Linked DNA regions of Homo sapiens: regions 2, 3, 4 and 5 are each reported to be linked to region 1. The links are microRNA targets in miRTarBase. Many come from high-throughput screens and were not tested one by one. Region 1 holds a microRNA gene; each other region holds the end of a gene's coding sequence.

Region 1 (6,337 bases):
ATGTTAGGAAAGGAGATGAGAAATAGCAGTGGCCATGAGAACATGCCTCCTCCTTTCATGAGCCTGAGATTCCTGGCTGTCAACCCTGTTTATCTTTTCTCTTGGGAGCAAAGGAGGGTTCAAAGCTGAGTGGGGCCTGAAGCTGTCAATTAACATGTGCATTTCTCTTCTCTGTTTCTTGTTCATCTGGCGATCTGGCACCACAGGGGAAGGTAAGCTGTTGTTGCTTCTGTGGGGTCCTGCAGGCCACCTTCTCCAGTACCCGCCTCCTACCCTACCCCCTTTCCCACCTCCCCGAAGACAAACCCTCAATCAGGGTAGGAGGGTCGTAGAGGGAATGGCCTAGAGTGTCCTGCCTCTCACATTTATGTCCCCTAATAATGTCATTATCTATCTTTTTTTTCCTACAGTGACAGCCTCATCAAGGGTAAGAAATGAGCCTAGTCACCAAGAACTCCACCCCCAGAGGAAGTGGATCTGCTTCTCCAGTTTTTGAGGAGCCAGCCAGGGGTCCAGCACAGCCCTACCCCGCCCCAGTATCATGCGATGGTCCCCCACACCGGTTCCCTGAACCCCTCTTGGATTAAGGAAGACTGAAGACTAGCCCCTTTTCTGGGGAATTACTTTCCTCCTCCCTGTGTTAACTGGGGCTGTTGGGGACAGTGCGTGATTTCTCAGTGATTTCCTACAGTGTTGTTCCCTCCCTCAAGGCTGGGAGGAGATAAACACCAACCCAGGAATTCTCAATAAATTTTTATTACTTAACCTGAAGTCAAGGCTTCACGTGTTCATGAACTGGGTAACTGGCAGCAAGCATGCGCACGTTCACATGTGCGCTCCTGGGTCTGTCTTTGTGTGTGCCAGCAGGGGGCGCAAAAGAATCTGGCTGGGGCGGCTAAGGGGAAGCAAGGCCTGGGCTCCGAAACAGGACCCAAGCTGGGAAGGCTGGCCCTGAGTTCTCGAGGCCCAGCTGTGCTCTTCACACACCCTCCATTTCTCCCACATCACCCATTTTTTTAAGGCTGGACAGCCATGGCTTTGCTGAGCCAGATTAAAAATCTGATGACCCCAACAGGAGCTGCTTCCTTGGCAGCAGGGTTCCTTGTGGCTGTGGGGAGCCTGCCTGTGCCTGTTGAGGCACTTCTGTGCCCAGAAGCCCAGTGGATCGCGTGGCCTGCTGTAGGCCCCCCAGACTCCATTTCTCAGTCACCAGGCGTGAGGAGCTGCTAGCTAACAGGCCTCCCCTGGGGAGGTGGGCTTTTCATGCCCGCAGTTCCGGGGCCAACAGAACAGGTGCCTGTCTGTTCAGTCCACAGATAAGCTGACACTTATCTTCCCAAGACAGGCCTTCCCGAATCTCAGGCACCAGAGAAACAGAGCCACCGTTTATACCTGAATCTCCCACTACTGCCCATTTCCCATCCCTGCGGGGAGACAAGGAAGATGTGGAACTCAGACAAAACATAGGTGCAAAGTATGTCCAGGAACTGCCAAATGCAGATAGGGCAGCAGGTGGATCTGAACAGAGGGACTGGGTTAATCTGCTTCGATTTTTAAGATATTTTTCTCTGCTTGGGGTTGAGTATCATGAAAGACAAAGCAGACGTCGCAGCCCCAATCCTGAGTTGCTGGGAGGCTAAGATGAGATAAACAACTAGACAAAAGACAGGTCAAGTGACTTGGATCAGTCTTCCTCATGTTCCCCTTCACACTTTATTTATTTCATGCTCCCAAGGCGGGAAGACAATGGAGGTGCCTAGGGAACCAGTGTTTCCACATCTTGCTGCAGCTGTAAAGGCAGCCATTTTGTCTCCTTCCCATTGTTCCCCTTTGCCTAGTGATTCGTCCCCCATCCAGAGGGGTGAAGGTCAGAGGTTGTTGGTCAGTAGTCCTCCATGGTCTTCAGGGCTCCCTGAAGGTTACTGCCGAGAGAACCCACCCGGGAGCCATCTTTACCAGACAGTGTTAGGAGCTTCACAATTAGACCATCCAACACTGTACTGGAAGATGGACCCAGGGCCGGCCGACAGAGAACTACGGTGCGCGCTCACCAGTTGCTACAGGGGACCCTGGCCACAGGCCAGGTGAGGTCTCTTGAGAGGGGGCGAGCCAACCCCAAGCTCAAGGTCGACTGTGGGTTCTGGATCCACCAGGTGACAAATCGCACTGGGTGGGAGGAGGGGCTGGGGCCCATTGTGTCCCTTAGTGGCAGCCAGCCAACAAGAACCACCCCTTGTGCAACGCTCTCAGCTCAAGACGAGGGGCTTCCGGGGTGCGTGGGAAGTGGGGAGGGGGCTGCAGCCAGCTAAGGGCTGGGGACCTGAGGCGATGGATGTTGCTGACACAGGGACAGGGGCCTCCATCATTACCCGGCAGTATTAGAGACTCCCAACCGCACCCAAACACTGCTGGGTAAGACGAGGGCCCCCGCCCAGCCCGCCCACCTTGGGTCAGGCAGCTTCAGGCCCAGGATCCCTGCGGAAAAGCTGCAGATCCCTGGCTCCCATCCCCCCACCACCCGAGTCCCTGGGGACACTTCCTGGTGAGCCCTGCTGCCCGCCACCAGCCACACCCTGGGTCGCTGATCACGAGGCCCAGGTTGCAGTCCAAGCAGGCCCTCCGAAGCCCCTCGACCGTCGGCCCGCCGCCTCTGAGCCACCTTCCCCTACCCCCGGCAGCCTTTCCCGACCCGCGACACACACCGATTTACCCACCCTCATCCCCCCTCTGCAGTCCCAAGCTCAGCCCAGGACCTCTCCCCTGGTGGCCTTTACCTGTCACCGGGCCCACCTGCCCCCAGAGAGTGGGTGCTGGGGAGACGAAGGGGCTTTAAGGCCCCAGATTCCACGGCCTAGAGCCCGCCCTGGCCTCCGCTCTTCCTCCTTCCTTCTCCGCCTGCCGGGCAGCCAGCGCAGGCTCCTTACCTGGGCCCCGCCTGCCACCCTGCGCACAGGTGTGTCCTCCTGCCATAGGCTGCCCCCCCACTGCCTTAACCCCTTCCCTCCCAGCGCCAGCCACGGGCACCTCCTCTAAGGCTTGGCCACTCCTCTAGGCCTCCCACCCTCTCCCAGGGGCCTCTTTTCTCCAACCTGCCTAGTCTCACCCCTGTCTCCAGAGGTACAAAAAGCGGGGGCTGTCCTTGGGTCCCCTCCCCACAGCAGATGCTGCCCCCAGGACTAGCCCATTCCTCTGTGGCCTCAGACCCTGCCCACAGCGGAGCTGCAGGCCAGAGAGATCCCTGAGGTCAGCGAGGGGTCAGCTGGGCAGGAGTTGGGCTGTGCCGCCCCGCAGTGCCCAGCCTGTGCTGGGATCCCCTGAGGGAAAGGGGAGGGAGAAGGCCCCGCCAGGCCTGTGAAGGGCAGGCGGGTCCCAGCAAGGTGTCGCTAGTGTGAAGTTACCCACCGCTACCCAGAGACCCCAGCTGGCCCGGAGCATCAGCCTTGCCCCTCGATTGAGGCCTGCAGAGGGAACGATCGCGCTCCACTCTCCGGACCGAGCTGCTCCCGGACCCACCTCACAGCACAGCCCTCAGTGGAGTCCAAGTCCCACCCCAAGGGCAGGTAGCCCAAGGGCGGTTAGAGGAGGTGGGACTTGCCTTTGTGCAGCTGCGGCTTGTATAGAAAGGGCGTTGCTGGGAGAGGGGACCTGGGCCCGACAGGTGATTGCCCCACCCGTGCCCTGGAGGGCCACAGCCCCAGGGAGCTATTGGGTTGCTCAATCCCTCGCTGTTCTCTCTCCCAGGCTTTGTTTGCTTCCTTCTTAATACCCGCCTGCAATTATTTGATGCTTGTGATCGGTTTGTGAATCTGTCTCCCTGACCAGCCTCCTAAGTTCCAGGAGGTCGGGGGACTGTGAATGCCTGTGACGCCGGGGGCTCTGTAAGGATTTGCTGAGTAATGCACGCCCAGCCTCTGGGCTTTGGGACCTGTGCTGTCTCAGCCTTTCCAGGAGTGGGCGCCAGCACTTCCTGAGGGATGACTCCCACCGGCTTTACTCCCCAGGACACCAGTGTTTCAAATAAAGAAGAAACCCCACTCCTGACATGGGGGAAGGAAGAGGGGACAAAAAACAAAGCACTCTTCACGTCAGCCAGCTCTTCAAACTCTGCCCAAGAGGATAAGGGCAGCAGCGGCCTGGATGAGGGGAGGAGCTGGGCGTGCCCGGGTGCTCTGAGGAGCCTGTCCCTGTTCCCGCCAGAGGGGACGCAGCCGGGCTGGCCTCAGGTCTGCGCTTCCGGCTGTTAACTACTCTTCTTAGTTCAGATCTGGAACTCAGCATCAGGGGAGTGTGATCAGGGCCCCCCTGAGGGTGGCCCCAGCTGCAACTCCAGGGTAAGGAGTGTGGGCTCTGGGGTCAGACAGCCTGGGTTCGAATCCCAGCCTCACTGTTCCATAGCCCTGTGACCTTGGGCAAGTGACCAAGTTACTTAGTTTTTCTGTCCCTCAGTTTCCGCCACGGTAAAATGAGAATGACAGAAGTGCCTAGACTGAACTAACGTGTGTAGTCTTTTAGTGCCTGGGCACATGGCAAGCGTGTGATGAGTCACTGTGCCCGTCTTATCGTCAGCCGTCATCTCGGTGCTTTTCACAACCACCCTGTTATGATCGCCCTCCATTTTAAAGAAGGAGACTGGGGAGCTTCACCCACGGTCACCCTCCCACGTGCGAGGCGGAGTCCCGACCCACGTCCGTCTGACGGAAGGCGGAGCTTTCACGCGAGGCACGCACGGAGGCACACACAGTTACCCATCCTGCCCTGCCCTCTGGCCGCCCACTCACTGGGCAAGCAAAGGGCTCAGAGGCGACACACAGTGATCCCAGGGCTTTATTTACAAGAGGAGAAGGGTTGGCCCTGCCTGGGGCCTGGCTGGGCTATATACAGGGTCAGGGAGAGGTGGGGGGGATGCAGCCATTTAAATTACAAAAGAATGGGGCACTCCTAGGTTCAGGTTGTGAGTCTGTCCATCGCGAAATGCTTCCACAGGGTCAGGGCTGAGGCTGCCAAGAGAAGGGAGTGAGGGAGTGAGAGGGTAGCTGGAACCTGGAGGTGGAACAAGAGGGTCTGGGGCAGCTGGGAAGCACAGAATGAGGCTGCGGCCACCCCATCCACCCAGGGAAGGCAGTGGAGCCAAGGACACAGGGCAGGGCAGGGAGGACACCCAGGCAGAAGAGCTGTACCATGGCCACCTGAGGACAGCACCGCTCACTTCCTCTTGAGGGAACCCTTGCTCTTCTCCTTGTCTGCTGACCGCTGCTTCTTCACTTTCTCCTCCCTCTTGTTCTTAGTGTGCAGGTTCTCATACACATCCTCCTTGTGTCTGCAGCCGGGTGCAGGGGGGCAAGTACAGGCAGTTGGTGCAGGTCAGGAGACAGCACAGGGGGACCCGGCACTGGCAGTCCCCTCTGGCCACCCCGTCTCACAGGTGACGCAGCCACGGTCCCTGCACTAGACTCCAAGCTCCTAGAGGACAGAGGCTACATCTCATACACGAGTGCGCTGCTGGTACCTAGCAGAGGCCCACACGTGTGGGCACTCAGGAAATGCTTATGAACAGAAGGGGTGAGAACCAAGCCTGAACTTGAAGCCAGGTCCCCCCAGCTGCAACACTTGTCCTCTCCAGAAAGTGAGGATCGGGCTGGGCAGGACAAAGGGGTGGATGCCGGGCAGTGGCAGTCAGGGCCACTCACTTGGACGAGGTGCGGGAGGCCTTGGCATGGGCATTCTTCATGGCTGGGGGATAGGTGATGTTCCCGTACTCCGACTCCTGGCCCTTCTGCGACTGTGGGCAGAGGGACAGTGGGAAGGTGGTGGTCCCAGCAGGGCCAGGTGGCACCCATCCTGCACTGCAGCCCCCCCCCCCCCCAGGCCCTGCTCTGCACGCACCTGCAGGACCTCCAGCTTCTTCTTAGTGGTTTCAATGAACTGGGCGATGGCCACGTAGATGAACTTGTACTGCGCCTCCGTCTGCACCATGCCCGAGCGCTGCGCCCGCACCATCTGGATGGTCTTCTGGATGTCAATGTCACAGTCCAGGCCTGGGTGGGGGGCAGTCAAACCTCAGGTCCAGGCATAGGCGGACACCGAGGGGCTGCTCACCCCCCACCCCCAAACCCCCAGGTGCCCCTCACCCTTGGTGGAGATGTTCTCCATGAGCATGTCGATGACAATGATGGTGCCTGTGCGGCCGATGCCGGCGCTGGGGAAAGACGGGGGTGCCATCAGAGGCCAGTCAAGCCCTCCCCGGGAAGGGGGGTACCCAGCGCTCAGCTCCAGCCCCAGGCACCACAGGAGCAGCCTGAGCCTCCAGTGATGGGAGGGAATGTGCCCAGGGTCACCG
Region 2 (6,337 bases), not on the chromosome of region 1:
CCTCAGAGCCAAAAATTAACATTCTAAAATTAGGACATTCTTCTGGATGCCAGCTGAGGTGTCAGCCTGGCCTCTGAACTGTCCCAGGGGCAGGGATTGAGAGCCACACTCAGGAGTGTTTCGTAGCATCTGTTGGGGACCAGGTACTGATGTCTGTCCTTTCCCTTCCAGCCGTCCATCATCAGGGCTCGGCCTCAGCACCCTCCACCTCCAGGTCCTACACAACTGGTTCGGCTTCCACCCACAGGCGCCCCTCTGCCACCCTCATTGCCTGGGAGCTGCTCCGCACTCAGGGCCTGGCTGGGCTCTACAGGGGCCTGGGTGCCACTCTCCTCAGGTGAGCCTTTCTTCCGGTTCCCTAGGACAAGTGCACGGGGGAGGGCACGAGGGCCAGAGAGCTGGTTGTCCCTATCTGCCTCTGTGTCCTTCCCAGAATATCCAAACCCAGGTGAGCAAACGATTTCCATGCTTCCTGTTTTGTCTGGAACTGGCCAGGGTGGCACAGAATGGGTACCTAGAAGACTAAAGTTTTAGGCCGCTTGCATAGTGATGACCAGGCCCACAGGAAGGCTGGGTGTTTTGTGGCCCAAAGGCACCTAAGAAAGCCCTGTCTACAGAGGACCGCAGAGTTCATAGTAATGAGTGGCCAGGCCCCTCATCTTCCCTTAGCCTGCCTGCCCCTGTACAGAACGCATTTCCCGCCTCGGACTTGCCTCTGGCAGTCAAGAGGCTGCAGGTGCTGCAGGGCAGAGGAAGGAGCTGGGACGGCGGAACAGATGGCAACAGCTCTTTTGTCCCCTGCTGTCCCTCACCCACGCTCACGGGGCACAAAAGAAGGGATGAGTCCCCGTGGCTCCTCTCACTGTAAGCCCCACAGCTCACAGCAAAGCTCATTGTCTCACCTTGGGTGGCAGCCCCAGGGCAGCTCGGAGCTCAGTGTTTCTCCTTCCTCTTCTGCAGAGACATTCCTTTCTCCATCATCTACTTCCCACTGTTTGCCAACCTTAACAACCTGGGGTTCAACGAGCTCGCCGGTAAGGCGTCCTTTGCACATTCCTTCGTGTCAGGCTGTGTGGCAGGTTCCATAGCTGCGGTCGCAGTGACGCCTCTAGATGGTAAGGAGTTGGGAGACGTGTCCTTTCTATGGGATAAACAGTAATTTTGCACTTATAGATAAAACAGCCTGACCCTGGAAGCCATACTGGGTTGCAATCTGGCTGCTGGCGGAGGCTCACTAGAGGCCCTCATGGAGAAAGTGGGTCCCAAGAGACCTTCCTTCTGTTTCTCATCCCTGACACATCCCTCGCCTTCAAGATGCTGATTGCTTTAGCTTTTCATCCCCTCAGAAGAGTTGTGAGCCCCAGCTATAAATTATTGCTGATGTGTTAAAATTTGGGGCTGGCTGGGTGTGGTGGCTCACGCTTGCAATCCCAGCACTTTGGGAGCCCAGCACTTTTGGATCACCTGAGGTCAGGAGTTTCAGACCATCCTGGCCAACATGGTGAAACCCCGTCTCTACTAAAAATGCAAAAAAAATTAGCAGAGTGTGGTGGCGGATGCCTGTAGTCCCAGCTACTTGGGAGGCTGAGGTAGGAGAATCATTTGAACCCAGGAGGTGGAGGTTGCAGTGAGCCAAGACCACACCACTGCACTCCAGCCTGGGCGACAGCACAAGACTTCATCTCAAAAAGTAAATAAATACATAAAATTTGCGGCTAATGGTGGGAGCTAAACCTGGCATGAGAAGACAATGCTTCCCTCCGTGTTAGGGCTGCCTCCAGCTCCCTAAACTTGCGGGTAGACTTCCTATACCAACAGTAACCTGGCCAGGTGCGGCGGCTCACGCCTGTAATCCCGAAACTTTGGGAGACCGAGACAGGAGCCCAGGAATTTGAGACCAGCCTGGGCAACAAAGTGAGACCCTGTCTCTAAAAAAAAAAAATGAAAACATTAGCTGGGTGTGGTGGTGCGTGCCTGTAGTCCCAGCTACTCGGGAGGCTGAGGTGGCAAGATCACTTGAGCCCAGATGGTTGAGGCTGCAGTGAGCTGATTGTGCCACTGCACTCCAGCCTGGGCAACAGAGCGAGACCCTGTCTCAACAAAACCAAACAAAGCCACAGTAACATGACTCATTTATTTTATAGCTGAGGCCCAAAGAAGAAGACCTCCACTTACAGATCACACAATGGCAGAACTGGCCTCATGACCGTTTTTTTTTTTCTTTTTTTGTTTTTGAGATGGAGTCTTGCTCTGTTGCCCAGGCTGGAGTGCAGTGGTACAATCTCGGCTCACTGCAAGCTCCACCTCCCTGGTTCAAGCGATTCTCCTGCCCCAGCCTCATGAGTAGCTGGGACTACAGGAACGCGCCACGCCCGGCTCATTTTTGTATTTTTAGTAGAGATGGGGTTTCACTATGTTGGCCAGGCTGGTCTCAAACTCCTGACCTTGTGATCTGCCCACCTCAGCCTCCCAAAGTGCTGGGATTACAGGCGTGAGCCACTGCGCCCGGCCTATGAGTCAGTTTTATATGTGGTGGCTCTACAGGAGGGCCCAGCCCCTTAGTGTTGAGGGGAGGACACCGAAAGTAAGCTGTTCACTACTTACTTTAACTTTTACTTGATTTAGTTCTGAAAACTCGAATCCAAACCCTCAAGAAAGGCCTGGGCGAGGACATGTACAGTGGGATCACCGACTGTGCCAGGTGAGAGCCAGTGTCCCCTCAAATGGTGGCTGGGACAGGTTCCTCTGCGTGGGTGTCTGCCTAGACCAGATTTAGAGACCAACTTGAATTGCTGGGCTCTGGGTTTCTTTGAAGTCTGTCTTTCCCTCACCTCTCAAAGAAAACAGAATGTACTGGGAGCCTTTTTCTTCTTCCTGGCATCCCTACAGCATCTCTCACCAAAGATTCTAGCCACATCAAGCCTGTTTCCAAGGCCTTGACCCAACTGCATAAGTAACCAACCTGCATGCACCTAGCGGGCGAGGCACAGCTCCCACACCGTTGGCCTCTTGCTCTTGTTGTGGAAGGCACTATTCTAAAATGAGAGGTGCACAAATGGAGAGGCTGCCACTGAGGGCTGCTTGCAGAATGCCCCTGCCCATCAGCTCACTGGCTCTTCTTTCTCCCCAGGAAACTCTGGATTCAGGAGGGACCATCTGCCTTCATGAAAGGCGCTGGCTGCCGGGCACTGGTCATAGCACCTCTCTTTGGGATTGCTCAAGGGGTCTATTTTATTGGGATTGGAGAGCGCATCTTAAAGTGTTTTGACTAGACAGAGCTGGAGGTCAAGTCCCTGCGCTTGCCGCCCTCTCTCTAGCTGTTTCACTTAGCCTAGAGGGGGCAAGGGCAGGTGGGGCCACTCTGGCCTGCCTGGTCCTCTGCGTTGTAGTGCTACCTCAATCTCGGGAGAAACAGCCCTATATTCTAACAAGTTGAGCACAGCCTTCTTCCCCTTCGTGTCTACACTCGTTTTCCTTTGTGGGCACAGCTACCAGGGGCTTTTGGAAGCCCCTAACCACCTACTTTTCAACAAAAATGGTACTTTCGTTGTATTAATTGCAGGACCTTAACAGGTAGTCACAATAGAAGGGTTGTTTCTGTATTTTAACATTTCTATTTCACAGTCAAACTCGGCATTCTTCAGTCAGCTTGAGGATTTAGCATTGTTAATCTTGGACTCCATAACTTATGAGTCCTAGCACTGATTTTGAGGAAAAGGAGGATCAGAAGTTCAAGGGACCGTGAAAGCCCTCAGAGTCAGCACCTAGTTTGAGACCAAGCACCCTTTCGAATCCCTGGATGGCTGAGGGGGCTGAGGCCGGCTCTGACTGGGCAGCTCAGCCCCTCCCCCAGAGCCCAGGGTCTTGCACACCCCTCCCTGTAACCAAGGAACACTCTGAAATAAAGGTGAATGGCTAAAATCTCATCTGTTCATCAGTGGGTACAGCAGATAGGCTGCAGTGAATGCTATCACCATCTACTTTTCTACGTCCATTTCAAAACCAAACATTAAAAAGGGCATAGAAGCAGACCCCCGTCACTCTTCAAACTGTTACTTGTGGGGGTGGAGGAACACAGCCATAGGGAAATATCTGCTTGTTAGTGACACTGGGTTTTAAGCCTTGATTCTATCCCTTCATAAGTGAATCGTCTTGAGGAGCTGAGTTTGCTGTGAGAGCCCTCCTCACGCACCTCGATTCCTCCCCCAAAGGCTGCTACAGGAGAGATAATGTCACAGCAGCAGGGCCAAGTCCTAAGAAAATCAGCACCTGCTGCAGGAGCTGGTGTTTACAATAGTCCCATCTACTGTGAAACCTGGGCTAACAAGGAAGAGGATGGTGCTAACATGGTCAGCCCTGGGGGCCTCACTCTCTGTTATGAGAACTGCATTTGAGTATGGGCCCTGGAGACAGACCTCAGTTCAAGTCCCAGCTCCACCATGTACTAGCTGCAAGGCCCTGGGCAGCTCTTAGTCGTCACCTACGGAAAAATAAAACATGGGACAGGGAAGGAAGAACAGGGCCTCTGTGAAAGGATCTGGTTCCAGCACACAGTGACCTGCTCCAAAATAACTCGGTTTTTTGGGTCTGGCGCCGTGGCTTACGCCTGTAATCCCAGCACTTTGGGAGGCCGAGGCAGGCGGATCCGAGGTCAGGAGATCGAGACCATCCTGGCTAACACGGTGAAACCCCGTCTCTACCAAAAAATACAAAAAATTAGCCAGGCGTGGTGGCGGGCGCCTGTAGTCCCGGCTACTCCGGAAGCTGAGGCAGGAGAATGGCACGAACCCGGGAGGCGGAGCTTGCAGTGAGCCGAGATGGCACCACTGCACCCCAGCCTGGGCAACAGAGCGAGACTCCGTCTCAAAAAAAAAAGAAAAAGAAAAAACAAACAACTTGGTTTTTCTCATTCGGGCAACACTAATAAAACTATTTCCTCAATAAAGTTGTGCACGTCACGCTGAAGAGCCATGTGGGGTGTGTGGAAGATTGCAAGGGTGGAAAGAATGCTCCTGGTGATGGGCTGGGAACAACGGGCAACAGCCCAGGGGACCCCCAGAGGGTTAACGGGTCCAGGTGCTGACAGCTGTCACCATCAAGTGCCACGGGGATTGGGAAAATACTTCTTTTCTAGGTGCCTCAGTAAGAATTTGACTCTGTCAAAACCTAAATTTGTAGTGCCTTACACTAGAAATCACATTAAATCCGCATAACTCTTTTAATAAATAAAGCATATTCATGGCTTAGATTTTAAATCACATTTACAGATGAGGGAAAACTTCTAGGCCTAAACAGGTAACAGTAAAGCGACTACTGCTGGAAGGAGTGGTGTGCCACATGCGCCTTAAGCCTCAAGAGTGGGGACTGCAGGGCCAAACACCAAATACATCACCTTTAGGCCAGACGGAGAGTGGAGACCCAGGAAGCCCATGCAACCACCATCTGCCCCCTCCCCTAGTGCTGCAGAACCGGCTGGACACTGTCACACTTTCAGAAGAACTGGAGGTGGGTCCTGATCATATTACATGAAGCTTTCCACCATTGTGAACAATTAGGCAAGGCATGAGTGACAGAGGGGCATCGCTGATAAATACAGAGCAATACTGGGGCAGTGAAGAGGAAGCTACAGAGACATTCGTGTTTCTTCAAATATCAGAAGCTTCCACATCACAGCAGGAGAGCTGACGACGAGCTCCACCTCCTGAAGGCTTAGTCCAAAAACTTCCTGTTGGCATTTGCACCAAACAAGGCTCCCCGGACTTCTGGCATCATCTGTGGAGAGAAAGTGTAATAAATACGCAATGTCAGCTGAAGAAGTTGTAGAGCGCTGCACATCTTTTTTTTTTTTTTTTTTTTGAGACGGAGTCTCGCTCTGTCGCCCAGGCTGGAGTGCAGTGGCGCATCTCCGCTCATTGCAAGCTCACGCCATTCTCCTGCCTCAGCCTCCCAAGTAGATGGGACTACAGGTGCTTGCCACCATGCCTGGCTAATTTTTTTGTATTTTTAGTAGAGACGGGGTTTCACCATGTTAGCCGGGATGGTCTCGATCTCCTGACCTCGTGATCCACCCGCCTCGGCCTCCCACAGTGCTGGGATTACAGGCGTGAGCCACCAAGCCTGGCCAGAGTGCTGCACATCTTAACCACAGGTGGAAAGCCATGAACCTCTATGTGGCTGGGAAGGACTCACAAAGCCACGCACATCAAAGCCACCCTCTCCTTCCCTGAAGCAAGTAACACATTCCTTGGTGAGAAACTTAACTCATCCCAAATCTGGGGTTCAGACTGCTTACAAAAGGGACACATTAAAAAAAAACAAAACAAAAAAAAACCTAAAG
Region 3 (6,337 bases), not on the chromosome of region 1:
TTTCAGTAGCAACAGATGAGTCACAGAGAGGGAGAATCAATCATAATATACATAATTATTCTCTAATGCTTAAAAAGTAGTAAAACTTCACATCTGTTCAGGAGATAAATGCAAAGTTTGCTTCTTCATCTCAAGGGACACTCCATTTTTAACATCTTTTCTGAGTTTCATTCTAATGTCAGCCAGTGGAGAAATGGTTTTCATGATATGGATACCGTTACTTTGTTCATTTTTAATCTTTTTTTTTTTTCTTTCATAGTGGAAAGGTGAAATCCAGGAATTTTGTCCAAATACCAAAATGCTCTTGGTCGGCTGCAAGTCTGATCTGCGGACAGATGTTAGTACATTAGTAGAGCTCTCCAATCACAGGCAGACGCCAGTGTCCTATGACCAGGTATGTATGTTGCCCATGTGCAAAACTGGATTTTAGAAAGAGTGAAAGAAATGGACTATCACTCATAATAAATAAAATAAAAAGTAGCTGCTTTTCTAAAGGCTCACCCAGTGGTCAGTTGTGAAATTTAAAATGCTGTCATTTATTAGTGTAATTACATGATATTCGGGTACATAAACAGTTGATATGCTAACCTTGTATATTTCTGCACCTCCCAGTAGGTTTAAAGTTAAATAGGTTTAAGAGAGAATGTGGTCAAAATCAGTAATACTCTTTAAGAGGGGTAATCTGATTTTACAGTCGGCAGTACAATAATAAGGCTGTTGCCAGTAAAGTGGAACACTCCATAACACCATCTTTCAGAGAGTCTTCATTTCTGTAAGCATTTCCCCCAAGTATTTAGAAATGAGAATCAGTTTCAAAAGCTCATTCTCATAAAACCTACAACCAGATTCTAAAGAGAGTTCATGTTGAAATACCAAAATTTTATTAAGAATCATCATTTTAAATACCGCAGTCTTCTTAGTCTTCCATTTCTCATTAGCAAAAAATTTGGTATTTTAAATAAGTAGTTTTGGTTAATGTGCACATGCTTATTGTTGTGTACGTTGGTGGTATGGTTCACACTTAGAAATTACATATGTTGTGTTTCATAAAGTAACAGATGTTACAATAGTATTATTCCTTTCCTCAACGCATTTCGGCCCTAAGTAAGACACAATCACATACATTTCAAAATCGATTTTAAATTTCATTCATTGCCCCTGTTTTTGGTACAACCTAGTCACTAGTCTTGAATGCCATTTACCCTCAAGAAAAGAGAAATGAAGTGCACCATGAGGCGCTGGAACAGGTTCTCAAGGCCACATCGCCACGGCCAGAGCTGTGTGGAAAATGCAGAGTTTATGTTCATGACCTTCAGCTAACTTACTTCACTAGTAAGCTTCTCTGCGCCATTCCATGCTTGCTGTGACCCTGGAAAACCTGAATAACCAGTTAACTCTTGCTTGCAGTTGATAGTGAAGATGAATCACTTCGTTAGCTCCACTCTACACTTCTTTGAATCACCTCATGTTAAGTGTTTGATAACCAGGGTCTTCCTTTGTTAAGATCAGCCTTTAGCATTTATTCAGAGCTCTAACACCTCTAATGAGCCATGAGAGTTGGGCATCTTAGGGATGGGCTCTGGACTGCAAATAGTTATGAAGTAATAAATAAGGCAGTTTACATTTTAACAACTTTTTTTTTTTGCAATGACACTTGGAAAATTCAGTTAACATATCAGCAAACGTTTTGCAATGTGTTATTATTTTGTGGTATTAGAAGATGCTAGCTAACTTTCCCCCAAAGTCTTATTGCTGGTTAAAATCCCTTCTTTTGCTTCTCAGGGGGCAAATATGGCCAAACAGATTGGAGCAGCTACTTATATCGAATGCTCAGCTTTACAGTCGGAAAATAGCGTCAGAGACATTTTTCACGTTGCCACCTTGGCATGTGTAAATAAGACAAATAAAAACGTTAAGCGGAACAAATCACAGAGAGCCACAAAGCGGATTTCACACATGCCTAGCAGACCAGAACTCTCGGCAGTTGCTACGGACTTACGAAAGGACAAAGCGAAGAGCTGCACTGTGATGTGAATCTTTCATTATCTTTAATGAAGACAAAGGAATCTAGTGTAAAAAACAACAGCAAACAAAAAGGTGAAGTCTAAATGAAGTGCACAGCCAAAGTCATGTATACCAGAGGCTTAGGAGGCGTTTGAGAGGATACTCATCTTTTTGGAATCCTGACCTTAGGTTCGGCATGTAGACCAAGTGATGAGAAGTGAATACATGGAAGAGTTTTTAAGTGTGACTTGAAAAATATGCCAAAAAATGAGAGATACAAATGAGCTAGAGGAAGATGAGGGGGGATGCGAGTACCTCCAAGAAGAAAAATCACACTCTGAATGGTGCTTGCATTTTTGGGTTTTTTTTTTTTGTTATAATCTATTCATGGATCTCCACTTTGATTTAATTTTTAAATGTTTTAATCTCCTTTACAAAAAGTATACGTTAATATACCGTCCTCAAGGGGGAACTGGCACTGTGACCTTAGCATTTAGTTTTCTAGAGGATGTGATCTAATTTCTTTCTAGCTCATCATTAAAAAGGAAATTGTATCAGGACCCATGGGATATATCCAGAGGCAAACTTTATGAGGCTTTGAAATCTTGCCTTCCTGAAGATAGCTGAGTAGGATGGTTCTAAGGAAAGCCTTTGCAATCTTGCAAGATTTGTAGACCAGCACTACAAAGATCGCATAGATCAAATAGGAAAAAAAATGTCGATTTTTATTCAGTCTGATGGTTCTGTTCTTCATTGTGATTGTCATTAAAAAGTGGTAAATTGCTCAATGTAATATTTTTGTGCGCTGTTTAGAAGTTGTGTGATTTTTTGCCATCGTTGATAAAAATGCAAAGTCAAATAAAAGGTGTCTTGGTTTGATGTCATAGAATGATCCAAGGAGAGAAAAAAGGTAGTTACTGTTTTCACCAGAAAAGGTAATGAGTGAAGGAAAGAATAGTAGCAGAAAGCACAGTTTGTGAGTAAAGCTGTCTGGAATTAAGTTACCAAAAATACAAAGCAAAAGGACTATTATTTTGGGTTGAAGCTCCAAAACTGACAGCATCTGATAATCTGTTGGTTTATTTCACTTTTCATTAAATGAACATTGATGAGAGAAGATGCCACTTACCCAAGCTTTAGAGAATCCCTAGTGGAAGATTATATGATAAACTTTCAGTCCTGACATAACACTAGGGCATTTCTAGAGTGTCATTGCTAAAACCTCACTGAACAGATGCAGCCAAGGTCTGTGTTCAGCACTTGGTCTCTGTTGTTACGTAAAATAATAAGCATTTAAAATAGTTTACAGATATTTTTGACCAGTTCCTTTTAGAGATTCTTTCAGAGAAGAAACCAGATCTGACCTGTTTATTGTTGGCGCTTGTTGAAAACGAGCTTTCTTTCCCATGATAGTGCTTCGTTTTTGAAGTGTTGAAGCTGTGCTCCCCTTAAATCGTGGCAGGAGAGATTAAGGTAATTACAACACTCAGTTCTATGTCTTACAAGCACTTTGTCTTGTCTCTGCAAGAAAATTCGATTCCAGTCATTTCCCATAAAATACAGACATTTTACCAACATAATATGCTTTGATTGATGCAGCATTATGCTTTGGGCAGTATTACAAAATAGCTGGCGAGTGCTTTCTGTATTTAAATATTGTAAAAAGAAAATAAGTTATAACTGTTATAAAGCAGAACTTTTGTTGCATTTTTTAAACTGTTGAAGTCACTGTGTATGTTTGTTTGGTCAATGTTTCCGCAGTATTTATTAAAACATACTTTTTTTTTCTTCAAATAAAAAAGTAACCATGTCTTTGTCTAAATGTGATCTGTCTTTTATTATCTACTTCCTGATTTAGCTGTTTAGCTTTGTTCTTTAACATAGGTGATTACAGAATCTGGCCTAACGTTTTCTGAACTAGAAGGCTTTGGAATTTTTTGATTCTTCATAGTAGTAACAGATAAACCTGCATATATAAAAGTTTTCATGATGCTTTCAAATCACAAGAAAAAAATGGGGCATAATTAGATTAAGTGATTTGATCATATACAAAAAAGAGCTATGATACTGCCTAAGATTAACTTGTAGAAAAGATGGAAATCCTTCAAGTCTTTAAGAATGAAGCAATATGATGCAGTCTCAAGTCACAGGTTTAATACTAATATAAGCCTAGTTTGCCTCTCTGCCCTGTGGGGTCCTAAGCCTTGGTCCTTAACCCATGCCACCTCGCAAGGCATGCCCTTGTTCACAGCAGTTGTGGGGATGACCCAGAACACAGCTTTTGCAGCAATTCGTGGAAGGATAAATAACACAGCACAACATAATACAAGTTACCCCACTGATCTGGGAGATGTACAGTAAGCATGGAACAGCTTAAAAGAGAGGACTATCTCCCCATAAATCCAGTTGATTCTCAGTCTTCAGCTAAAATACTTACATATAAGTTTTACATAAGTGTCCAAAGATACTCTGTGGGATTTTAAAACAGTGCTTCTTTTTACACAGCTAAGTCACTTCATATAAAAAAATGCATCCTTGTGGCTTCTTTTTTTCTGAGTGGCTTTGGGAATCTTGGAGGTATAGTTATTTGCTTGGAAATAATTCTCAGAAGCCCAAAGCAAAGGGGGAAGCAGAGAATCCAGCATGAGTGAACAAATTAAAGCACACTGACATTATGAAATGGCCTTATAAACAATTTTAAGCACAGAGATTTACTGAAAATGTCTGTAACTCATTCTCGTCATCAAATAGTAAAGGAAATAAAAGTACTTTCCAAATCCTTCGTGTTGAGTAACTTCGGAGCATAATGTCTAAGTCAGGCTTGCAAGAAACTCATTTCTCAACAATCACTGGCACAGAAAAATAAAAAAATAAATAAAAAGCTGAGGTTTTGCTGACCTTGGCAGTATTTTATATGCTGTACAGTAATGTTCCTCTCTGGTCAATTGTTCTTTCCTAGCAGCTTTAATTTGTTGAAGCAAAAGAAAAACGTTTGTCTTCAGCCTTGGGCATGGATGCCTTCGTTTTCTCTGACTTCTTGCCTTAGCAAACATTTCTTCTAAGCATTCTGTGAACATTCCTTTCTATTGATTAATGATCATGGTTAATGCCTTTTTAAATACTAAAAGGTGGTTTTCAAACTCTGAGTAAGACTTACACTGTGTCTCTCTCATTTTAATCTTTTACAGGAATAGTTTCTTAGAAGATTCTAGTCTTGCAGGGAGTCTGTCTTGAGTACAAACTTAGAAATAACTCAGGGAGTTATTTTTATTAGAAAGAATTTTTTTAAATGACCTCATCTTCTAACTCTCCTGAAACTCTTAAAGCTGCTTATCCTTTTTCTACTGGGTTATTTTGACACCAGCATTCTGTTTTAACCTCAAAGTTTTTATTTTTATCATTTTTCTATTCACCAAATATTTATTGAGTGCCTACTACATGCCTGTCACTTTTCTGAGTTTGGCTCATAATCATGAATTAAATACAGTCTCTCACATGGGGAATTTATAATGTAGTAGTGGGAGACAGTCACTACCAAACTATAGTACACCAGAACTGGTTGTCATTTCCATTGACATAAACTGAATCAAAGAAAGTGAGTAGGCACTAAATATTCCAATACATAGCCAGGCACATTAATGCAATAGCCGCATATGTTACACCACATACGGAAGATGATCAATTGCTAGTGAGAGGACGCTCCCTTCGTTCTTTATGTCTCCCAGAGGCAGTTGGTAACTTATTTACAACTTTAGGTTCCTCTCAGCTCTGGGAACATAGTTCTTGCCTCTTACCACTTGTTCATATACTTGGCTACATAAATTCCCTTTCTGTTTTCTCCTTTCCTGAACATAATCTCCATGAATATGACTCTTTCTACAAAACTACAGCATATAAATAAATAGACTCAAGCAACATAAAGTATTGTGGTGGGCTGCATAATGACTCCCCAAGCATGTCCACCTCCTAATCCCAGAAACTGTGAATGTTTCCTTGTATAGCAAAAAGGACTTTGCAGTTGTGATCAAATTAAAGATCTTGTGATGGAAAGATTATTCTGGATTATCCAGAGAGGGCCCATGTAGTCACAGACCTTTATAACAATTATGTAGGAGGAATCAGAGTCAGACAGTGGCAATGTGATGACAGAGATGACAGAGGGTCAGGCAGAAGGATGGAGAGAGATTTGAAGATGCTATGCTGCTGGATTTTTTTTTTTTTGGCAGAGTCTCACTCTCTGTCACTCAGGCTGGAGTGCAGTAATATGATCATAGCTCACTGCAGCCTTGAACTCCTGAGCTCAAGTGACCCTCCTGCCTCAGCCTTCTGAACA
Region 4 (6,196 bases), not on the chromosome of region 1:
TTCTGTGATGTATGTAAAGGTTGGAAGGGATGAGGGAGGAGGAAGATGTCTGTAAATAAATTATTTCACAGAATTTTTTTAAATCAAAAAAAGATAAAAATTTTTAAATGAGTTGATGTTCTAACCTGTTGGCCCAACATACAGAAAATACATGACAAGGGTGTTTTTTTTTTTTAAGCAAACAGCAGCTTTACAAACAGTAATACTTCTTTATACATATATTAAAGTAACAATGTGTTAAGATTGAACAGTTTCATGTTAAAGAGTTGAAAATGAGTGTAGCATTCACTACTCATTTGCACATTTCAATTCCCACCCCTCCCTCCTCCCCCAGCTTATTTAGAAATCAGACAAGTACATATTTGGATATTAATTTCTCAGTATTTAAACTATGTGAATTCCTTTTGACTAATTCTTTTCCAAATACTGGAATCATATAAAATACCATCTCTGCAAAAACAACCTCCAGTCAAAGCCAGTAAAAACTTCTCAATGTATAACACACATTACTTTTCCACATTTAGTCAAAAGAAATATATTACATCATTTACAAACATATTTAAACCGAAAATTAAGCTAATATGAACATCTGTCTTTTGAGAAGTAATCTTCACAGCAAACAAACCTACTGAAGCAGAAATCTAACTTTGGAAGTGTAATTCATATTTTAGTTAATATGCTTACATACTGAAATAGAAATCTATTATTAATTATTGCCAGTAAAACCACCTCTACACATTAAGAGAAAAAATCACTATGTTTTTTATTTCTTGTGATGATGAACCAACCCTTACTCTTCCCACTGGATCTCTTTATAGGTCTTCAAAGAGCCAACCATGCCCACTTCAAAAAATATATAAAAACTTTCCTAATTTTCACAACTCCTCCAAAGCCTGTAATTCAATATTCCAAAATTTAAAGGAAACAAGTTATAAAGACATTATTAATATTTATTTAAGCATGCTCTCAAAATGGTAACATTTCCTTTAATAATTCTTGGGTTGTCCTCTAGAGGTGACCTGTCTCATAAAAAGGCTATGGTCCCTTGGATTTGCTGGCAGAAGAGGTACTGCATATGCGAGAGCATTTACCGAACATATAAATAAACACTTCTGAAGTCTATAGCAAAACTAAAAGTTACCAGTGTTCTGAAGATTTCCTCAACTTCTCTTTTGATACAAATGTCAAAAATCTAAAATGACAATTCATGTTCAGAAGAGATATAAAATATAAGAAACCTGTGAAAAGCCATCATCTCAAGGTCAAGAGTTATCTGAATCACTGACATCGAGCAAAGGAAATTTACACCATAAAAAGTATGAACAGTTTTTAAATTCACTTTTAAGACTGTCAGTAGTTCAAAACCTCTATCATTTCTTTAAACCAACGAACACTTCCAAATGTGTAGAGACAGTAAGATCTGCCATGTATAAATCCATGAGTACTATTTCAGAGGCTTCATTCCTTACCTGCTGTGTTCCTTTAAATATTGGATATTTAGTGCCTAGGAAGTCTATACTGGAGAACAGTTTAGACAGGACAGTATAAGAATGTCCCCTTTTAGCACAATAATAAAGTTGATTGACTAACATTTTCTACACAGCTCCTGAACTTTCACAATTCACAAATACTAAATCATCAACCAAGAATCCAATCTCTCCAGTAATTAAATGCCAGCATTATAAAACATCAAAACTAGCACAGTAGTCCCAATGAGTTCAGTAAAGAATCTGCCCAATTCTTCTCTCCTGCCTCTGTGAGGCAAAGCCCTGCCCCAGATAATCAGGGCAGGGATAATACCCCTTCCTTCTCAGTTTTGTGCCTGCTTATGGAAGCTTGTAAGTGGAAAACACACACACGTACGGATGTGTGCATGTGTGTGAGGGGGGTGGGGGGGACAGTTGGGGGTGGTGGGGAGTTGGATGGAAGACAAAAAAATTACATAGTTTGTCATTCTTCCACCATTACATAAACTTGTAAAGTCACTGAAGTCCAGGTGGTGACTGACTAGCAAATAAAACATTTAGCTCATTTATTGTCTCCTAAGCAGGTATACAAACTCCTAGAGAAGGGCAGAGATAAATAATAGTGAATAGAGAATTAATACCTACATATCTGTATACTCTAAATCATCTAATAGTTTCAGCACAATTAGAACAACTTTCTCTTATCTTCTAAAACTTCCTCCTCTAAGCCTTGATTATCAGGATACATGTCACAAGTTGTGCAAAGTTCCTTTCCTTGACCTCCTGACAGTAACTATGGTCATTGCTATGTGGAAGGTGCTCAAGGCTAGGTGCAAAATAGGTATTTTTTAAAAGGTGAAACAGTTTTGCACTCAGGACAAGTTTGGATACTCAATCAAATCCATATCTCAAATCAAGAGTCCTGAACCAGAAGCATGCAAGAGAACACACCAGTATAAGACTCTGTTTCTGAAGAGTTTACATGTAAGTGCAGCAGTCATACAATCGGTTACAGTTATTCACCTGTCAACATGTGCCTAGCTTTTTGTAAATAAGTCTATGTACAAGAGCATTCCTGAGGTAAGTAAGAAGCAAATATGAGACAGAACCTGGAGGTCCTATCATGGGTGACTGTTCACTATTATAGACAGCATCTATCACTTTCCACAAATGAGGCTAGCTAGCTATAATCTAAGATGGTGGCTCCACTGCTAGCCGAAGTTTTGAAGGCTCTGTTTTAGCCCATCCCAACACTAATTAATTACAATAATCAGTGACTTCTGACTAAACATTTGTGGACCACATAAAAGTTGCATTGATTTTTTAACATACAACACTGGTGGACTTAGTTACCCTCAGCCTTTCATTTAATTTTCTGACTCCACCCCCAGTTCTTTTTTAAAGAAGCCCAAACAATTTTTTGGTCAAATTAGAGTAGAGGAGGTGGAGTCCTGAAGCAAACACTGATAACTGCTTCTATCCTTAGAACCTTGTTCTTTAACTTTCAAAATGTCTTTTAAGTAAGCATTTGAAATTTATTTTCTTTAAGATCTGGTCTTCTTTTTATCACTGTTTTTGATTACAAAATAAGCTGAAACAGATCTGAATTTTCCACACAGTTCTTAGAAAGACACTTAGATACTAATTAAAAGCTAAGCTACAGATCATAACAAGTAAAAGCTACAAAAATATTTGTTGGGAATTAAATACGTATATTAAATACTGGACAGTGCAAAATGTTGAGATGAAGCATAAAAGGTAATGGCTGCAACCCTTCCACAGCTGGAGATAGAGAGCCGACATTTCCTGAGTTACGTAGTTTGCGTTGTGTAATTAGAATCAGAGTGCTCTTTGTTGAGCGAGCTGCAGTTGCTGGACTTCTGCTGCCCAGGACTGGCCTGCTGGTCAGCAGTCCATGCCTCACTGTCCATCCCTGGCTCCAGCACCTCAGGCGCCTCTGCTTCCTCTTCTCCACTTTGCTCTACATTGTCTTCCTCAGAACCATTAAGGGTTTTTCCAAGCTGAAGGGTTTCCATAGTTCTCTGGGTCTCTGAGACCCAAGACTCAATTCTACTATTGAGCTGCACTTCTACAGATATGGGTTCATGAGTATAATCTTCCTCCTCCTCCTCATCTTCATCTTCTTCTTCTTCAAGCATGCCAGGTACAAGAGTGCTGGTGGTGCTGGTGATGGAGGAATTCAAAAGATCTCGGCAACTGCCATCCAAAGAGCCAGTCTCTGTACTCTGCTGTGAGGCCCATTCCAGGTCATCTGGCTTCACTTCCTCTTTATCACTTGCTGTGGATTTCCCAGCACTTGTAGCTGAGGTAGTACTGCCTGTAGCCACTAATGATGGCTGCTTACCAATTGGGGGTGTGTCAAATGGAAGTTTACTGGGTTTTTCAGAAGTGCTGTGCTTACAGGATACCTCTTTCTCATTTTCTGATGCTTCCAGTCCATCTGAAGTTTCCACCATGTTTCTCCAATTTGTTTCTACAAGTATCAAGCAGATTTTTTAAAAACCAGAACACTGTTTCAAAATCATGCAACTCTTTAAAAACCCCCAAAAAAGAAAGAACAACAAAATATATAAATTTGTTGGCTTAGAAACTGACTGGAAAAACTACAAATTTAGTTTATTTAGTACTAGTTTGAGACAGAGAGAGAGTGTGTGTGTGTGTGTGTGTGTGTGTGTGTGTGTGTGTGTGTTTCAGATGGGGTCTTGCTCTTTTAGGCTGGAATGCAGCAACATGATCTTGGCTCACTGCAGCCTTGACCTCCTGGGCTCAATCTATCCTCCTATCTTGGGCTCCCAAAATGCTGGGATTACAGGTGTGAGCCACTGTGCCCAACCTAATTTAAATGTTATAAAGGGAAAATAATTCCCAAAAATGTACATTCAAGATAAAGAAACAGGGAGGTAAAAATAAGTATATTAACGCTTCAGAATGCAAGAGATCTTATACCAATAGGAGCTCACTGGCATTCACAAATAAAATCCATATATTCATGAAAATCAATAAACTGCCTAACTTTTTGGTAGCCTAGAGGTGTAATGGGCTCAAGGACCCACAACCCAAGAGATAGAAGAGCCAAGATGTCCAGCAATAATAGTTCTGATTCATGTGTTTGTACCATGCTCACTCAGCAAGTTATTTAAATTATCTTTTGGCCTGTAATGGGACATGTGTTTCCAATTATAAGCAAAGAATCCATCCATGCATTTCTAACATCTGTGAAAGGTTGTTTTATAATATATATATATATATAGCTTGGCTTACAAAGTGATTTTGGAGGACAAAAAAAGTATTATATACTACAGTGATGACAAACTAAATTATTTCTCATGATAGGAAATCAGTTGAAGGCAAAAAAAGTACCAAGAATCAGTAAAGATCTCTCACCCCTGTATTTTTTCAAATTTTTTTAAAAAATAAAAATTCTATCATATTGACATTACAGCTACTATTTGCAGTTTATAGGTATAATATTCTTATCAAGTTGTAGCAAACCTATTCACATTAGTATGTTCAATATGGTCACCATCTATGGCCTATATATTGATATAGAACATGTTTTGGGCACTTCAAGTCAGGATACATTGTTTGGGAAAAAATTTCTTTCCTGAAGCTACTTTAGTGTAGAATGAGTCCTTTCCACTGTCATTTCTACCTTATGAAAAAAAAAAAATCACCTCCTCCTATATTCTCATTCTCAGCTAATGACATTATCATTTACACAATCTCAAAGCAGAAGACACCTTATAGTAACACTTGATCCTACTTTTCTCTCTTATTAGTATTATATCCCTTTAGTCCACTGAATTCATCACTATACCATGACACCTGTAGCTCAAAAACTACTAAATCTGTTTACTACTCCCTTAGCTCAGGCCTTCTTTTTCTTGCTGTTCATTTGTAACATCTTCGTAACCGGTTTTGTGAACTGATTATATCATTGTCTAACTGGCTTTTTATCACCCTAGGATAGAATCCAAAATCCCTGGCGTGGCACAGCAAAGCCCTTCATGATCTGGCCCTTATCTATCATTCTGGTCCTACTGCCTTCTGACCCTGCGCCATAGGCCACACACTCCATGCTCAGTGTCATCTAAATTCTCACTGTTCCCTAAAGTTGGAACATCAGCTGTACTCTTTCTGCAGATGTGTTTTCCTCCTTTCCCCTTCAGACTCCTATTCATCTTGATAACCACTCTTAAATGTTAGTTCCTTCATGAAGTTTTTCCTAACTCCTGACAGGCAATCGCTAACCTGAACTCCCACAGTACTTTTTACATATACAGTCAAAAGCCTTGTTTTGTGTTTGCTGTTTCACCTTCCTCATCCCTCCTCACTTCCACTCCAGCTCATCTCTGTGTCCCTATGACTGGTATATAGTAAGTGCTGGGGAAAAAAAAAAAAAAAAACAGTCTAGTAAGTGAAAATTTTCCCACATATATTTAATTATGAAAAAAAATTTTAAAGGCACAAAATGTTTAAAAATTTTAGATGCACATTAACATTTCAACAGTTTTTTTTTCTAAGGAGAAATCCAAGACCCCGAGATTAACTGATTACACCTAAAACCTTTAGGCAGAGTATAGAAAAACCAAGGCTTCAATCTTTGAACACTTTGAATCTGGTGCTTTCTGAAAACATCACCTCAATCTCTGAGACTTTCGTTTTATACTACTTGTGTTTATATGTGCCCATATCATTTGTTACTCTGT
Region 5 (6,337 bases), not on the chromosome of region 1:
CAACTATGCATATTTTGATACCCCAGCTGTTTCTGCAGCAGATCTCAGCTATGTGTCTGACCAAAATGGAGGTGTCCCAGATCCAAATCCTCCTCCACCTCAGACCCACCGAAGATTAAGAAGGTCTCATTCGGGACCAGCTGGCTCCTTTAACAAGCCAGCCATAAGGATATCCAACTGTTGTATACACAGAGCTTCTCCTAACTCCGATGAAGACAAACCTGAGGTTCCCCCCAGAGTTCCCATACCTCCTAGACCAGTAAAGCCAGATTATAGAAGATGGTCAGCAGAAGTTACTTCGAGCACCTATAGTGATGAAGACAGGCCTCCCAAAGTACCGCCAAGAGAACCTTTGTCACCGAGTAACTCGCGCACACCGAGTCCCAAAAGCCTTCCGTCTTACCTCAATGGGGTCATGCCCCCGACACAGAGCTTTGCCCCTGATCCCAAGTATGTCAGCAGCAAAGCACTGCAAAGACAGAACAGCGAAGGATCTGCCAGTAAGGTTCCTTGCATTCTGCCCATTATTGAAAATGGGAAGAAGGTTAGTTCAACACATTATTACCTACTACCTGAACGACCACCATACCTGGACAAATATGAAAAATTTTTTAGGGAAGCAGAAGAAACAAATGGAGGCGCCCAAATCCAGCCATTACCTGCTGACTGCGGTATATCTTCAGCCACAGAAAAGCCAGACTCAAAAACAAAAATGGATCTGGGTGGCCACGTGAAGCGTAAACATTTATCCTATGTGGTTTCTCCTTAGACCTTGGGGTCATGGTTCAGCAGAGGTTACATAGGAGCAAATGGTTCTCAATTTTCCAGTTTGATTGAAGTGCAGAGAAAAATCCCTTAGATTGCAAAATAAAATAGTTGAACTCTCTGTCTTCATGTGGAAGGTTTAGAGCAGTTGTGAGATGCTGTTATGCTGAGAAACCCTGACTTTGTTAGTGTTGGAAAAAAGTCTTACAAGTCTATAATTTAAAGATGTGATGGTGGGGAGGGGAGGATGGGGAAGCTTTTTATATATGCATACATTACATACCTATATATAAACTTGTGGTATAACCATAGACCATAGCTGCAGGTTAACCAATTAGTTACTATCGTAGAGTAATATATATTCAGAATAATAAACTCAAGCTGGAGAAATGAGTCCTGATAGACTGAAAATTGAGCAAATGGAAGAAGATACAGTATTGTTTAGATCAGAATCATTAAAAAATATTTTTGTTTAGTAAGTTTGAAGATTTCTGGCTTTTAGGCCTTTTCTATTTTGTTCCATTTATTTTTGCAGGCAATCTTTTCCATGGAGGGCAGGGTATCCATTCTTTACCATGGGTGTACCTGCTTAGGTTAAAAATCATACCAAGGCCTCATACTTCCAGGTTTCATGTTGCGTCTTGTTGAGGGAGGGAGAGCAGGTTACTTGGCAACCATATTGTCACCTGTACCTGTCACACATCTTGAAAAATAAAACGATAATAGAACTAGTGACTAATTTTCCCTTACAGTTCCTGCTTGGTCCCACCCACTGAAGTAGCTCATCGTAGTGCGGGCCGTATTAGAGGCAGTGGGGTACGTTAGACTCAGATGGAAAAGTATTCTAGGTGCCAGTGTTAGGATGTCAGTTTTACAAAATAATGAAGCAATTAGCTATGTGATTGAGAGTTATTGTTTGGGGATGTGTGTTGTGGTTTTGCTTTTTTTTTTTAGACTGTATTAATAAACATACAACACAAGCTGGCCTTGTGTTGCTGGTTCCTATTCAGTATTTCCTGGGGATTGTTTGCTTTTTAAGTAAAACACTTCTGACCCATAGCTCAGTATGTCTGAATTCCAGAGGTCACATCAGCATCTTTCTGCTTTGAAAACTCTCACAGCTGTGGCTGCTTCACTTAGATGCAGTGAGACACATAGTTGGTGTTCCGATTTTCACATCCTTCCATGTATTTATCTTGAAGAGATAAGCACAGAAGAGAAGGTGCTCACTAACAGAGGTACATTACTGCAATGTTCTCTTAACAGTTAAACAAGCTGTTTACAGTTTAAACTGCTGAATATTATTTGAGCTATTTAAAGCTTATTATATTTTAGTATGAACTAAATGAAGGTTAAAACATGCTTAAGAAAAATGCACTGATTTCTGCATTATGTGTACAGTATTGGACAAAGGATTTTATTCATTTTGTTGCATTATTTTGAATATTGTCTTTTCATTTTAATAAAGTTATAATACTTATTTATGATACCATTAGTAATGTTTCTTGCCTAAAGTCTTATAAAGTGTATGAAGCAATTTGACAGCATTATTTTTAAGCACAAGCGAAGATTCTTTGAAGTTTAATGTATTCTTGAAACTCTTATTCTTTAGAATGAAACATAATTTGTGCAATCTTTTTCACATATTATGAAAGTATACAGTGGAAATGAGCTGTTTGTTTTTACCTTTAACAACTGAAAGAGAACTGGATTCTGGGGTTACTATCAGAAACAACGTTGGGGGTGGGAGTCCACATCAAGGAGAACGTGACAGAAGAAACCAGTTCTGATGTGTAGACTTGGTTTGACTCATTCTGATTTTTAGGACGAGGTCCCGGTTACTCTGGGCCCTTTGGCAGGCTTTGCTTCTTGCTTAAGGCCACCCAAGGAATCTGCACCTGCCTTGGCCTGTCATGGAGATGGCAAGTCCACAGTGGACAAATGGGCTCCTGGCAGCCTTTGGATGGAGGCAGGGGCTGGAGTGCTCTTTGTGAGGGGGCTTAGTCCCATGTCACCTAGCCCTGTGCCTGGTTCTCTTCACTGTCCTCTGCAGGCTCCTTTGTCCCCTGGGAGAGGGTGGGAGCCCTCCACGACCTTCATCGGGCACCTGCACTGTCTTGCCACTCTCCAGAGTGAAGAGTGAGGGCTCAAATTATCTGGGTTGAAGTTGCAACTTCATCCCTTTCTAATTCTGTGTGAGGCAGATTATTTTAAATCCCTGTAGCTCAGTTTTCTCATTGGTAAAATGGGCAGAGAGGTGGGAATTATTTTGTGACAACTGCATATAAACTATATTATCTGGTACATAGTGAGGGCCCCATACATGAGAACTGTTTTTGTCATCTAAAGGCTGGGTGTCATTTATGGCATTTTACAGATGAAGATGCAGGCTTGGGACGTTCAGTCAACAGACATTTGTTAAATCCCAGCCCCATGCTGGATCCTGCGAAAACACATCCCCTTCCCTTATGGAATTTAAAGCAGATAATGTTAATTATGATTACATCTTATATTAAGTGCTAAATAAAAAGGTAATGAACAATGGGAGCAATGAGGACTGATAATGGGACCTGTGAGGTGTTAAGCTCTGAAGGGTTAGAATGGAAGCTGAGGGAGGGGAGTGAACAGGTAGGCATGTTACCAGTGGAGGAAGCAGACAATGTGTGAGACCCTGAAGTAGGAAACAGCTGAGCAGCTTCCAGAAAGTGGCTGTCAGGAGGAGGAGGGGCCTGGAAAAGTGTAGTGGGTGCCACTGAAAGATCCTAAGCAGGAGAGGAAGGTGATGTGATTTAAGAGGACAGTGGCTGTTGTGTGGAGGACAGATCGGAGAGAAGCAAAAGGAAACGGGAAGACTTAATGGACAGAGGCTACTGTAGTCCTGAACTGAGACAAGACTGCCTTGGCCAGTGGAGATGGAGAAAAACAGTAAAAGATACCTGGGAGTAGTAGAAACAGTTAAGTTCCAGATCACGCAGGCCCGTGTGCGCGGCACCCTGGCCAAAGAGGGACAGCTCCCCAAGCGCAGGGACTCAGCTTCCTGTGCACTGTCATGACGCACTGCCTGACCCAGGGGTGCAGTAAGTCCCTGCTGACTGGATGTCTGAATGCAGCACTTGCAGAACTTTGTCTGCTTCTGAGACTTTTTGCCTCTCCCCTCCCCTCCACTACCTTTTCTTGGTCATATGGTCAAGAATATGTTTCATTAGTTCTGTTTGCTTTCCATCTTACCTTTGTATTTTTACTTGTGTTTGCAAGCATATACCTTTTCCCTGATTTTTCCTGGCTAAGCAAATGTGCCTAGCCGCCATGCCAATGCCACACTACCACCGGAACACATCCCCTAGCACCTTCTGCCTGTCAACTTATTCCTCAACCAGCACACAAAGCAAGTTAATTCTAAAGAGTTCTCGTGGCATAGGTCAAGCCCGGGACTTCTGACACTCTTCTCTGTTGCTAAGTAAGATGCCAATAGGAAATCAGCTGCGTGTTAGCTGCCACTTTATGCACTGTTGAGTTCTCAAAGATGGTTATGTCACACAACAAAGTACTGGCCTAAAACCCAGGTTCCTGTCTTGACTTCTCCCTTTTTTTTTTTAGACACAGAGTCTTCTTGCTCTTGTCACCCCAGGCTCCAGGCTAGAGTGCAGTAGCACCAATCTTGGCTCACCGCAACCTCCGTCTCCCGGGTTCAAGCGATTCTCCCTGCCTCAGCCTCTCAAGTAGCTGGGATTATAGGCAGGCGCCACCACGCCTGGCTAATTTTGCATTTTTTTAGTAGAGATAGGGTTTCTCCATGTTGGTCAGGCTGGTCTTGAACTCCCAATCTCAGGTGATCCGCCTGCCTCGGCCTCCCAAGGTGCTGGGATTACAGGTGTGAGCCACCACGCCTGGCTGACCTCCCACTTTCTATAGGAAGGATTCACTTCACTTCCCTGAGCTTTAAGTTCCTTGTCAGTATATGTGAGGCCATGCCAGAGCGCACTGTAGTGCTATGCACACCTAAGGGACTGGTTAGTAGATACCATTTCGTGGCAGCAAACAGAAGCCGAGGATAAGGGGGCTCTCTTACAAGTGAATTCAAAATTTGGGTTAATAGTAAATGTCAGTTTTTTGTTTTTTTGTTTTGAGGCAAAGTCTTCGTCACCCAGGCTGGAGTGCAGTGGCACCATCTGGGCTCACTGCAACCTCTGCCTCCAGGGTTCTAGCGATTCTCCTGCCTCAGCCTTCCGATCAACTGGGATTACAGGCACCTGCCACCACGCCCGGCTAATTTTTGTATTTTTAGTACAGACGGGGTTTCACCATGTTGGCCAGGCTGGTCTCGAACTCCTAACCTTAGGTGATCCACCCACCTCAGCCTCCCAGAGTGCTGGGATTATAGGCGTGGGCCACTGCGCCCAGCCAATTTTGTCAGTTCTTATGCTGCAACAGTCAAGTATGTGATGTGTATCCTCTTGTTTTTAATAAATTCCAAAAACACACTAATGGAAGTTTAATACTGTTTGTTGCTTATCCATCTCTAGGTCTCAAGAGATGTCTTAACTATGCTGTGAAAAGTAAGAACTCTCTTTAAGAGGATGTTTCTTGGCTGGGTGCGGTGGCTCACGCCTGTAATCCCAGCACTTTGGTAGGCCAGGGCGGGTGGATCACCTAAGGTCAGGAGTTCAAGACCAGCCTGACCAACATGGTGAAACCCCATCTCTACTAAATACAAAAAAATTAGCTGGGCGTGGTGGCTCATGCCTGTAATCCCAGCCACTTGGGAGGCTGAGGCAGGAGAATCACTAAAACCCGGGAGGCGGAGATTTGCAGTGAGCTGAGATTAAGCCACTGCACTCCAGCCTGGACAACAACAGTGAAACTCCGTCTCAAAAAAAAAGAGGATGCTTCTTCACTATTAGGGACCCTAAAAAATAAAATAAAAGGCCATAGAGTTTCATCTTCCAGAGCAATTCACAGTTGACTAGAGAAAAGCCATATTCATATATCTACTGGTTCAAGAATCAACATGTATTTTAAGCTAGTCTCTATTTTGGTTCTTAATTTCATCACATAATTAATAGTTTTAGGATATACTGGAGCTTTTCTCTTAAAAATAAGTAAAGCTCCTAGCACAGTTTTGTATTTCTTATATAGTTTTTTTTTAACTTTTCATCTTGATGTAATTATACACTCAAAAGAAGTTGCAAAATAGATCCCCTATGCCCATTACCCAGATTCCCCCAGTGATGACATAGAATTTATCAAAATCAGGAAACTGACATTGGCACAATACTCATGTAGGATTTTATCTGGAAGTAGTTACTATCAAAATGAACTTAGGTGCTACTTTTTCAAATTAATTTAGAAATTAATTTTGGCCTTCTGGCATTTTGTAAAAAGCTAATAAAACTCTAAAAATATGTTGTCAGGCTGGGCATGGTGGCTCACGCCTGTAATCCCAGCACTTTGGGAGGCCGAGGCGGGCGGATCACCTGAGGTTGGGAGCTTGAGACCAGCCTGGCCAATGTGGAGAAACCCCATCTCTACTAAAAATACAAAATTAGCTGGGTGTGGTGGCACGAGCCTATTA

What was found. Region 1 holds the annotated microRNA hsa-miR-200c-3p (UAAUACUGCCGGGUAAUGAUGGA, at 2,359-2,381, opposite strand). A microRNA usually pairs through its seed, bases 2 to 8, with sites in the 3' UTR of a target mRNA and lowers its output. Matches are read on the target gene's strand: a 7mer-m8 pairs with bases 2 to 8, a 7mer-A1 pairs with bases 2 to 7 and ends in A, and an 8mer does both.
Region 2: the mRNA of ATP6V1E1 is a reported target of hsa-miR-200c-3p. Seed matches in the 3' UTR shown: 7mer-m8 at 5,600-5,606.
Region 3: the mRNA of RND3 is a reported target of hsa-miR-200c-3p. Seed matches in the 3' UTR shown: 8mer at 3,618-3,625 and 7mer-m8 at 3,763-3,769.
Region 4: miRTarBase lists SECISBP2L as a target of hsa-miR-200c-3p. Seed matches in the 3' UTR shown: 7mer-m8 at 3,185-3,191, 7mer-m8 at 423-429 and 7mer-A1 at 201-207.
Region 5: the mRNA of ERRFI1 is a reported target of hsa-miR-200c-3p. Seed matches in the 3' UTR shown: 7mer-m8 at 1,198-1,204, 7mer-m8 at 1,773-1,779 and 7mer-m8 at 2,164-2,170.

Annotation. Positions count from the first base shown.
Region 1 is chr12:6,959,786-6,966,122 of GRCh38, reverse strand. MIR200C (microRNA 200c) reads right to left here and starts at 2,424; the gene lies at 2,357-2,424. PHB2 (prohibitin 2) reads left to right here. Exons shown (of 10, transcript NM_001144831.2): 9 at 207-212; 10 at 411-796. The coding sequence ends at 438. It overlaps MIR200CHG (MIR200C and MIR141 host gene), which reads right to left and starts at 2,878. Exons shown (of 2, transcript NR_135032.1): 1 at 2,775-2,878; 2 at 1,676-1,922. MIR141 (microRNA 141) reads right to left here and starts at 2,026; the gene lies at 1,932-2,026. It also overlaps LOC105369634 and PTPN6. RefSeq lists enhancers at 1,132-1,181, 2,964-3,765, 4,007-4,216, 4,025-4,543, 3,766-4,565 and 2 more.
Region 2 is chr22:17,586,965-17,593,301 of GRCh38, forward strand. ATP6V1E1 (ATPase H+ transporting V1 subunit E1) reads right to left here. Exons shown (of 9, transcript NM_001696.4): 9 at 5,172-5,772. The coding sequence ends at 5,710. It overlaps SLC25A18 (solute carrier family 25 member 18), which reads left to right. Exons shown (of 11, transcript NM_031481.3): 8 at 172-337; 9 at 961-1,115; 10 at 2,626-2,701; 11 at 3,131-4,031. The coding sequence ends at 3,272. It overlaps LOC101929372 (a long non-coding RNA gene), which reads right to left and starts at 2,228. Exons shown (of 4, transcript NR_171783.1): 1 at 903-2,228.
Region 3 is chr2:150,465,684-150,472,020 of GRCh38, reverse strand. RND3 (Rho family GTPase 3) reads left to right here. Exons shown (of 6, transcript NM_005168.5): 5 at 260-394; 6 at 1,783-3,826. The coding sequence ends at 2,034. Among named protein-coding and RNA genes, the nearest start is that of RND3, 19 kb to the left of the region's middle.
Region 4 is chr15:48,988,967-48,995,162 of GRCh38, forward strand. It overlaps SECISBP2L (SECIS binding protein 2 like), which reads right to left. Exons shown (of 18, transcript NM_001193489.2): 18 at 1-3,960. The coding sequence ends at 3,278. Among named protein-coding and RNA genes, the nearest start is that of SHC4, 28 kb to the left of the region's middle.
Region 5 is chr1:8,007,642-8,013,978 of GRCh38, reverse strand. ERRFI1 (ERBB receptor feedback inhibitor 1) reads left to right here. Exons shown (of 4, transcript NM_018948.4): 4 at 1-2,252. The coding sequence ends at 769. Among named protein-coding and RNA genes, the nearest start is that of ERRFI1, 15 kb to the left of the region's middle. RefSeq lists a silencer at 4,056-4,350.